2 separate regions of the Homo sapiens genome follow, and region 2 is linked to region 1. The links come from fine-mapping of genetic effects on gene expression. Tissue or cell type: blood mononuclear cells. Region 1 holds a variant in brackets; the other region holds the start of a gene. All regions are shown on one strand. Distances are from middle to middle.

Region 1 (5,150 bases):
CCTAAAATGCTGAGATTACAGGTGTGAGCCACCATGCCCGGCCTAGGGGATCATTTTGAGCTCATTTTGTGATCTACTGAGTTTGAGTAGGATCTCCAGACATAGCATTCTAGGAAGCAAAGAGGAATACTGGGCATCAATTTGAGAGAGAGGAAGATCACAGTTATAGCTACAGACATCATCTACATAGAGAGAACACTTAAACATAAAACAGAATGAAAGCTGCAAAGGAAAAATTATCAGGCTGTCCCCTCTGCCTGGAATGCCCTTTCTTCTCATACCTGCTGCTGCAGGTATGCATTGTTGGATGACAACCCTAAAACTTAGTGGCTTTAAACAACAATTATTTTATAGTAAACTTTCATGGTTTTGAGGGTTGACTGGCCTTAGTAGGGTGCTTCTTGCTCAGAATGTCTCAAGTAACTATCACCAGTCAAGTTCTTACGGCTGAAATAATCTCGATCTCTCTTCCTCTCTTCTGTTTCTCCAGCATGGTGGCTCAGGAAGTCAGGGTAGCCAGACTTCTCACATGGAGGCTCCAAACACATGTCACAAGTGAGCTACCGCAAGGAGGAAGCTGTATCTCCTTTTATGACCTAGCCTCAGAAGTCAGGCAGCATTACTTCTGCCACATTCTACTCTTCAGAGAGGCAGTCATAAAAGCTCACTCAGGGTCAAGGGGTGGGGATATAGGCTCTACCTTTAGATGGGTAAGTGGAAAGTTTCTATAAGGTCATGTGGGACTGGAAATTTTTTTTATTCATTCTGGGAAAATCTGTCTTCTCTTCCAAAACTCAATACAAGAAACCATCCCAAATCCTCATGCTTGGTATAACTGCCACTCTTCAGTAGCCTTCCAGCATTTTACATCCTATGACAATGTTTAGCACTACAGGCATCGTCATCTGGTTATACATGTAGCCATCTGACTCAATTGTAAGCTTCTATAAGTCAAGACCCGGGTCTCGCTCTGTTTTGGTGGAGTGCAAAGTAGCAGGTAGATCTAGATTGTTGATTTAAATTTAATTCCAAAAATAGGAGAAGACTGTATGTGGAAGGTTAGTGAAAGCTGTATTTGAGACACAGGAAACGAAATAGGCCATGGAGACTTCGAGGGGAGTTTTTTCAAAACCAAACCATAATAGTCTTGGCAAAAATATTGTGGACATTTTCCTTACCTATGAAAACTGTCGCTGAATAAAATTAACCATATCTATGATAATTAGCAACAACAAAAACCCCTCCACAATTAATGCTTTGTAAGCAATAGCTACTGAACAAGTTTCTTATTTTCATAACAGGGAACTTCTGAATAGTCAAACCTTAGAAGAAATCCTAACCATAAAACAGAACCAAATTTGCAAGGATTGTTTTCCCATCCAAAACTTATGGTATAATAAGGCATACCATAATCAAATTTATCAATGATTAAATAATCTTAAAATAAGACTAAGATACCATTTTTTGCCTATCAAATTGGGAGAGCTTTTAAAAATATTCGTAAAATGGCCCAATGCCACCAAATGAACGTTCAGACATTTCTGACAGACGGGAGACTTGGCCAAGCCTTCTGGAAGATAAAGAGCTGTTAAGAGTTCGCTCCCTTTCATTCAGGAATTCCAGCACTAGAAATTTATTCTAAGAAAATAATCCTGGGTAGGGCAAAAATTCATATCGAGGATGCTCAACAAAGTATATGTTATGATAGCAAAATGCTGGAAACAACTAAATATTCAAATAGAGCTTGGTTAAATAGATTATGATTAATTCACTTGCTGAAACATTATGCAGCTATTTAAAAAATAACATTTTTGAAAACTCTTTTCTAGTACAAGAGCATGCTTACAAATTGATGTTCTCTGTAAATAAAACAGAATACAAACTGCACAAATTATAGGAAGTAGTATGATCCCAATTTTGTTTAAAAATTATATATGTATCGAGAAAAGACTAAAAGCACATTCCACAAAATGTTAACAGTAGTTATGTCAGAGTGATAGAATTATAGGACGTTTAAATTTTTTTCCCTATGCTTTTCTGACTTTTTTTTTTTTAACAATAAACATGTAATACTTTTGTAACCAAGGAGAAAAATGTATTTTTTGAAAAAACCCCAGGAATTGCTTCTGTGACTAGCTAGGTAATTAACAAAATGGAGGGAATGTTTTCCTGGAAAAAAAATTAAGTAATTTATGATGAAGTTCTTGGTATAGAATAACTCACACTTTCAAAAAAACCTAACATGCAAGAAAGCAGCCTGGACACAGACAGAAGCGCTATCTGTGAGG[C/T]GTGAAATTTCACACATGCCAAAGCCTGCACAGGTCCCACAGTGTATTTCCTTTAATGACACATGGGAACTTGTAAGTTCTCTGGCTGCAACTAAGACAGATTCTAATGGGCGGCAGGAGTGCTAAGCTGTGCCTTTCTGGTTCTACCCCACACTTCTCTACCCCACAACAAGGAACAAGTTGATTAACCTCTTTGAGCTCCTCAAGTCCCTCTCTGATATGGAAATCCACTAACATCAATAGGGCGCCTAAGGGCAAAAGTGGAAGAAAATAAACACTACAAATAAGATGGCTTTAGATAGAAGCCCAGGCCAGTGCAACAGGGACATTACACAGCTGTCTCCAACTGAACTGCCAACACCCTTGGCTGAGAGTCTGCCCAGGGTCTCGTTTCATACTCCTCTCATTGTAACACTGCTGTAGGTACCCAGGGAACAGCTGAGCTTTCTGCAGGCAAACAGAGCTGCCTGGGGCCCACCACTGCTCCTCTGATAAGACAGGCCTCTATTGTAGGAACTAATTACCACAATGCCATAAAGCTATCTGCCCTGGGCCGTGCATCAGAAGTGGTGACAGGCTCATAAAACCTGACTTCCCTGTGGATACCAAATGCCAGCCCTAAGGGAATATATGGTCAGTATTCAGGCCTTTCCGAGTTTGCAAATAAGCCAGATCCTAAAATCTTGTTTGTAAAGCATCATGAGGAACCTGAAGTACCAGAGAAACCATGTTCTAAATGTAGAACAGACATGGCACATAGTAGATGCTCAATAAATATTTGATGACCAGTGATGGCCAAGTGGAGGCCAAGGTCCAGTTCTAGCCCTTAGAAGCATTTGAACAAAATGTAGCTGCAAGCTGCATATTTTTCAATATAGGAAACAATTTTGTTTAATACCAGCAGCTAAAAGACGACTATCCACAGGATTAAATAATTGAATAATTAGTCTTAACTATATTTATCTAAATCTGTTTATGGAGAAGAAAGCAGATTTAACTAGAGGAAGATAAGAATGTAGACTGTAGGAAAGACTAAGGCAGAATCTAGGCAGTTTCAAGGAGTTTAAAGATGAGTGACACTACGTTATTATTTTACTTTTCATGTCCTTTATATAAACAGCACTTCCTTTTGGCTGGCAGCCAAGTTGGGCGTCATTTTACAATGATTACAAGGGAAAAGAGGAGAAATGATAACGAAGCCGTGTTAATCCATGCTGAAACAGTATGGAGTCACACGGTCCCCCTGTCAACACACCCAGGGAAGAGCCCAGCCAGGACCACCACACAAATCTAAGATTTAAGACCTGGTTGGGCCACTCACCAGCTCTGTGACTTGGGACCAGAAACATTCTCCCTGGAGCTTTAATCACCGAAGCATAAGAGTACTCATTCCATGAAGCCATTGGGAGGGTTAAATAAGATCATGCATTTAAGCACTCTTACACTGGCGCATAATACATGCTAGTTATGGTTATTATTAGAAATGTGTTCTAACCTTTTCCTCTAAGTTTCAGGAGGGTGGGACCCACGTGTTCATCTCATTTACTACTGTATACCCAACAGTAGTAAACCTGGCATGTGGCAGGGATTTAACAAATATTTGTAGGGGACAATCTGCTTGTTCTCATTTTTTTCCTCTGGTCAGTGACAAAGTGTTTTTCTGCATCTATCTCTGTCATTTTTTGGTCAAGTGGTTTATAATTATAGACATCATGACCCTTCATCCTTAAATATTTCACTGTGTCTCTAAAAAATAAGGACATTTTCTTTATAATGATATCATATCCAAAATTAATAATTTGTAAATATATAACACCTACACGGTACTCAAAGTTCTTCAATAATTCCCCAAAATATCCTATTACAGCTCATTTCCTTATGCCAGCTTTATTCCTTGACTGAATAAAGGATCAAAACTACATTCGGTGATTAGGTCTTTTAAGTCTCTTTTGATCTAAAAATAGCACCTCCACTCCTTTTTGCTTTCTATGACATTGACTTATTGAAGATACAGCTGTCCCTCAGTATCCATGGGTGATCAGTTCCAGGATGCCTGAGGATACCAAAATCTGAGGATGCTCAAGTCCCTTATATCAAATAGTGTAGTATTTGCATGTACCCTACACATATCCTCCCATATATGTACTTCAAATCATTTCCAGGTTACTTATAGTACTTAATACAATGTAAATGCTGTATAAATAGTTATTGTATTGCTTTTTAATTTGCATTATTGTTTTTATTTTTAGTATTTCTGATGCAGAGTTGGTGGAATCCACAGATACAGAAAACTGACCGTACTGTAGAATGTCCCACTTTTTTGATTTGCCTGATTGATTTACCACTGAGGTGATGCCTAACAAATTCCTGTCTCCCCTGTATTTCCCATGAGATGGAAATTAATTCTACAGTCTTGATGTGATTCAGGTAAAACCTTGTTATCCAGAAAACCTCATAGATGATGCTATGTACTTTAGCACTGTATCACACAAGGAGGGATGTCATGTCAAGTTGGCCTATTATCAGTGACACTGGGCTTGATCACTGGATTAAAATGGTGATGGCTTGCCTGATCCCTTTATTGCAAAGTTAAGGGTTTTCTCCTCTTGGAACTAGCAGATAAACTGGGGCGGTAGTTGATGCCCTGTAAATATGTAGCTCACCATTAACCTCTCACCAGCTGATCTTACAACCACTGATGGTCTTTGCCTGAATCAATCATCCCATAGGGGTTGCAGAATGGTGATTTTCCAATCCCATCATTCCTTCTTCACTTATTAGCGTGCACTCTTCTGTAAAAGAGCTTTCCTTCATCAACTGGGCTATTTAGTTACCCTGAAATATATAGCTCCTAGGGAAAAG
Region 2 (5,150 bases), 85 kb after region 1:
CATGGGCCTCATGTTCTAACTTTACTTAGATGAAAAAACTGTTAATTTCACCAGTGGTTTAATATCTCTTCATAGATTGATAGTTTAGACAACATAAAAGTGTTGATTAGCAGTATACGTGCAGGCTGAAGTATTTGTTGAAAATCTTGTTGGGAGAATAAGAATGATAAAAGAGATGCCTAAGAAAATCTTTTCTCAGATATGCTTTACTAAACAAAGAACAGGTTAATTACTCAATGATGATTTTTAAAGGGCATGTCGACAGTGTCAGTGACTTTGAAACAAAGTAAAGGAGCTGAATTCAAGTGTGTGCCTGAGTTACTTAACTATCTTGAACTGATTTAGGATCTGTAGCTTTAATCTGGGGCTCCATCTACTAGTGGTTTAATAGAGTGGGTTTTATTAAAATTGTGATTTAATCAGAAGCCAGAAATATACAACTGTTTTAAACTTTTTGATATTAACCTGATATACACAGTGGGCTGATAAATTAGTGAGACAGTTCATATAAGTCATATATGAAAATCAGTCTGTTATTAGCCACAACTCATGTATTTTTCAAAACTTGGAGATAAATGTAAGCTTCATCTCAGAAGTCATATTACACGTTATAGGTTTAATATAATGAAATTTTTCCAGACTTAGAAAAGATATCAGGAAATTAACATTTGCAAGGCAATTTACAGTTTTCAAAGAGCTTTTCTCATTAATTATCTCAGAAAACTGAATAATGATGTGATTATTAAAGGTTAATTAAGCAAATACTTGTGAAGTAATTGGGAGGTAATCTATTTCTAATTTAACAGGTCAATCACGGGTATTTAGGAAATATTTTTGCTGGTTAACAACTCTAACCAAAACAAAAAGGTATTTAAATGGTTTCCCTAGTGAAAAACCATAAGCATGTGTTTCCTCTATTAAGTCAATTGTTTCAAAGAACTAGCATGAGAATTCCTAATTTCACCGTTTTGATGATTTAAGGTTTTATGAAGATTCTGAGCTCTTCCCTCCCGACGTTAATCCATGTCTTACATTGTTCATTTTGGCGCTTTAGAATAAAATATCTTTGGAAAGTAACTATGAGAAAGCACAGAGGGATATGTTAGTGAAATAGCCATTTTCTTGTGGGAAGCAAGACATTTCGGTTATCGACTACACAGAAGAGTGAATAAAACCCAACGCCTATCAACCACCAAACGTGACTCTGCTTGCATAATCATACAAATAAATTTTCTTTAAAAATTTTTCATGGGTGCAGTATATAAAATGATCAATAGTCTCATCAGCAGTGGAACTACAAACTGCTTTCTCCTAACTTTGTGTAGCCTGGGTGCTGCCTCACGATTACTAAGTGGTTTAAAATCATATCCCACTTGCTCCTTGGTTTATCAGCGAAAGACGTGATTCCCAGGTAGGAAAACGCCAAGTGTCCCGCAAAGGTACAGGTAAAACGTAGCAGTTACTGCGAGAAGACTGGCCCCGGGGAGTCCCAGGGCTCGGTCGGGGCCCCCGCACGAGCTGAGGAAGTGGACAGCGGGCACCTTTGTCTGTGCCTAGTTCCCTGGACCCGGGCCGAGCGATGCGGGTGGGGGCGCGGTTCGGGCGGGTCCCGGCGCTGCCCGGGGGAAGCGCGCGGCGACGGCGGCCCGGCTTGGGAGCCGGAGGTCAGCGGCTGCGCGGCCGGCCCCCTCCCACGGGAGCCGCGCCAGGGCCCAGCAAGAGTCGGGCGGGATCGCTATTGTTTTTGGCGAGCACATAAATCCCCGGGCCGACCCACTGCGCACCCAGGTTTCCTCCCGGAGGCCTTTCGGTTTCCTCTGAGGCCCTATATAGAGGCTCCAGGCCCGGACTGTGCAGAGGTGCGCGCCCACGCCGGCCTCCCGGACCAGCCTGAGCTCGGAGCGCCTCTCGCCCTCAGGTCTCTGCAGCCAGAGGCATCTGGGGAGGTGAGGGGGGAATTTGTCCCCGAGGCGAGGAGGAGGAGGCGGGGGCGCGCGGAGCCGAGGGGCTGCGGCGAGCGGGCGGGAGGAGCAGGAGGATCCGCTTCTCCGGGGTTTCCCTGACGCCAGCAGCAGCGCCCGGCGCGCGCGCCCCGCACCCGTCAGCGGCTCCGGGGAGAAGGGGGAGGGGAGCGGGCCCGCCACGGCCCGAGAGGCGGCAGCCGGGATTGGAGCGGGGGCGGGCCGCGCGCGGAGCCGAGGGGGTGCGGGCGAGGCGCGCGCGTGCGCGTGTGCGCGCCCGGGACTCCCGCCCCCCGCCCCCGCCCCCGCCCCCGCCGTCCGCGGTCTCCGCCCCCCTCGCGCTGGTGTGTGGAGCCGGAGTCGGCGGCGGGTGGCGGCGCCTGGAACCTGGAGACCGACCCACCGCCCCCCCCCCCCCGCCCCGGAATGTACTGACTCCCCTTCTTCGCTCTCCTCCCCTCCCCGCCCCCTTGCAGGAGGGAGGCGCCCTGGAGTCTCCCCTCCAGCGAGAGGGGCTGCGCGGGCCGGGCCGGGCCGGGCTGGGCTGGAGCAGCGGCGGCCGCGGGAGCCGAGCTTGCAGCGAGGGACCGGCTGAGGCGCGCGGGAGGGAAGGAGGCAAGGGCTCCGCGGCGCTGTCGCCGCCGCTGCCGCTCACTCTCGGGGAAGAGATGGCGGCGGAGCGGGGAGCCCGGCGACTCCTCAGCACCCCCTCCTTCTGGCTCTACTGCCTGCTGCTGCTCGGGCGCCGGGCGCCGGGCGCCGCGGCCGCCAGGAGCGGCTCCGCGCCGCAGTCCCCAGGTAAGCGGCGGGCGCGGGCCCGGGGGTTCGCGGGGGCGCGGCACCGGCTCAGGCGGCCGCGGCTGCGGTGTTTTTGTTTAGGATCCAGGAGGAAACGTGCAGGAACTTCTCTGCCTCGGCTCCGGTTGCCGAAGAGAAAGGGGATCGCGCGTGGTGGGGAGGAGAAGGGCGAGAGGGGGCGCCACCGGGGAAGGGGCGGCTGCCGGGGGGCAGGTCGGGGGCGCAGGGGTCTAGTTCCCAGCTTTGTACCTGGAGGCAGGTTCACCCCTCGCCTCTCTCCCCTCCCCCAGGCTCATCCCACTTGTAAGAGTGGGACATTCTTGTGCTCACACTAGCACCAGTAGAGGCCACTACACACCTCATTAAATAAACAATCAGACGGCCAATTCATTAATTTTCAGGAAAGGAAAGGGGAGGGGGCTTGAGCTCCTGGTTCCCTGGCCAGGGATTTCCCAGCTTCCGAAGTCTCGAGGAAGAGCTGGCTAGTCTCGAGGGACTCCTCGCGCGGGGATTGGAGCCCGAGTCTGCGGAAGAGCGGGGGTGTCAGAGGGGCACAATTGCCCGCTCACAACCCCTGGTGTTGATTTAACGATGAGGACGCCTTGGAGAGCGGCTCGGAGTGATCGTATCTGTTAGTGTTTCCGTTATGAAATGCCTCTTCTTTCCTGGGGATTACAACTATATTTACAGCCTATTAACCACTCTTAACCAAGGGAATTGTCTAAGCATCAGATTTTAGGTACTTGTACAATGTTTTCAGATGGCATTGTATAAACATTGAACCTCAAAAGCCATTTTCAGTTCTTTTTTGGAATATTATAGATTACTGAAACCACCTGCATTCCTATTAAGGGGACCAACGAACAAAAATGCCAAGCCTTCCGGGAAGGACCTTACGGTATTGTTGAGCAGGATACACTCAGCAGTTGAAAGGCAAATTAGCATGTAATCTGTTAAAATTATTTGACCAAGGTGGTGTACCATAAAACTTGACAAAACTTTCACTCGTGTGAGATATGATATTTTTACATTTGAAAGCAGTCTTACCGCTGAACCAGTACTTGTTTTTCCCTGATTTATATGAAATAATATTTAAAATCACACTGCAAGGTAACTTGACTGATAAACTTTTCATTTCCTTGCAGAGTGTGTATGTAGCTCATGGCTTTTGCCAATGTTAAAGAACAGCTTTAAACGTAAAGTACCACTCGGTATTCTCTAAACAGCTACGTAAACAATAGTGTTTTAATGTCAAATTAAACATCACTTATGTCATGATGTACCCTTATACATTCAGTCCGTATATGGTTTAGAACACATTTTGGTGCTGAAATGCAGGTTACTGATCCAACTGTCTCTTAGATGAGCAAGAGAAATATAACTATTTTGGAAAACAAGTTCCTGTTACTCATGATCTATTTTATATGGAAATTCATATGTAGTTCACCAAATTTCAAGTTTTTGTTTAAAGTTTTGCCGATAATTTTGTAAGTAACTAAAATGCTAGTAATTTTATTACTTAGGATAATAAAAATAATGCAAGCAGTCTCAGGAAGTGGTCTTAACATCTGTTTCAACATTAACTCAATTGACAGGTTTTTATTTTGCACAGATGAGGTGCAAGGCATATGCTCTCTGCCTTCATGGAGTTTACAGTCTGGTGTGTGGGTAGGAAAGATAGCCATCCATCTACTGATTATATAATTAAGTAATTGTGATAAGCACTACAAAGGAGAATAGGTTTTCACAAAGTGGGTACTGGAGTGACATAACCTAGTCTGGGTGTTAAGAGTGTCTCACAAGAACTGAGATCTGAGGAGTGGGTAGGAGTGGAGGTGGGGAGGCTCACAGGTAATTAGTCGTTTAATTGGGTCTAGAACATAGATCTCCTGATTCTCGGTCCAGAGTCCTTCCTGTAAACCGCTCTGCTTCATTACAAAAGCGAGAGGAATAACTGCAATAAGGAGGGGTTGGTCAGTTCTGCCATAAAACTGCGGAAGAGATCAAGAGACTGGAGAACTGAGTAAGCAGCAACTGGAACAAGCTGTCCGCAAATCAGATGTCCTTTGTCAGTAGTTTTATTTTTTTTATTTTTGTAGAGTGATAGACTTATAAATCTTTTTATAGGGGATTATAGTGAATAGATTGTAGGGAAGTGGACATGTTCAGTAGTAGAAGGTGGAGAAAAATAGAGATGTGGGACAATAGGATAAATGGAAAGTGTTTTTCCATCTGAGGTTATAGACATACGGAGGTGGAGGAAAAAGTAAGAAGTAAAGGACTGGTGATAGAAAATGGTCAGCAAGGGAGGAGGGTTGGAATTGAGTAGGAACATAATCTGGTATTCTGAAAAAGGGCAGATTACTGAAAAGATATGTAGAGACCTTGGGG

What was found. PIP is the estimated chance that this variant, and not a neighbour inherited with it, causes the effect.
Region 2: NEO1 starts here. The variant in region 1 is fine-mapped to the expression of NEO1 in blood mononuclear cells (TOPMed, PIP 0.98).

The regions. Positions count from the first base shown.
Region 1 is chr15:72,965,278-72,970,427 of GRCh38, forward strand. No RefSeq gene overlaps it. Among named protein-coding and RNA genes, the nearest start is that of NEO1, 85 kb to the right of the region's middle. The variant C/T (reference allele first, on the strand shown) is at 2,289.
Region 2 is chr15:73,050,047-73,055,196 of GRCh38, forward strand. It overlaps NEO1 (neogenin 1), which reads left to right and starts at 2,417. Exons shown (of 29, transcript NM_002499.4): 1 at 2,417-2,759. The coding sequence starts at 2,630. RefSeq lists silencers at 1,537-1,586, 1,647-1,716, 1,807-2,126, 2,357-2,736.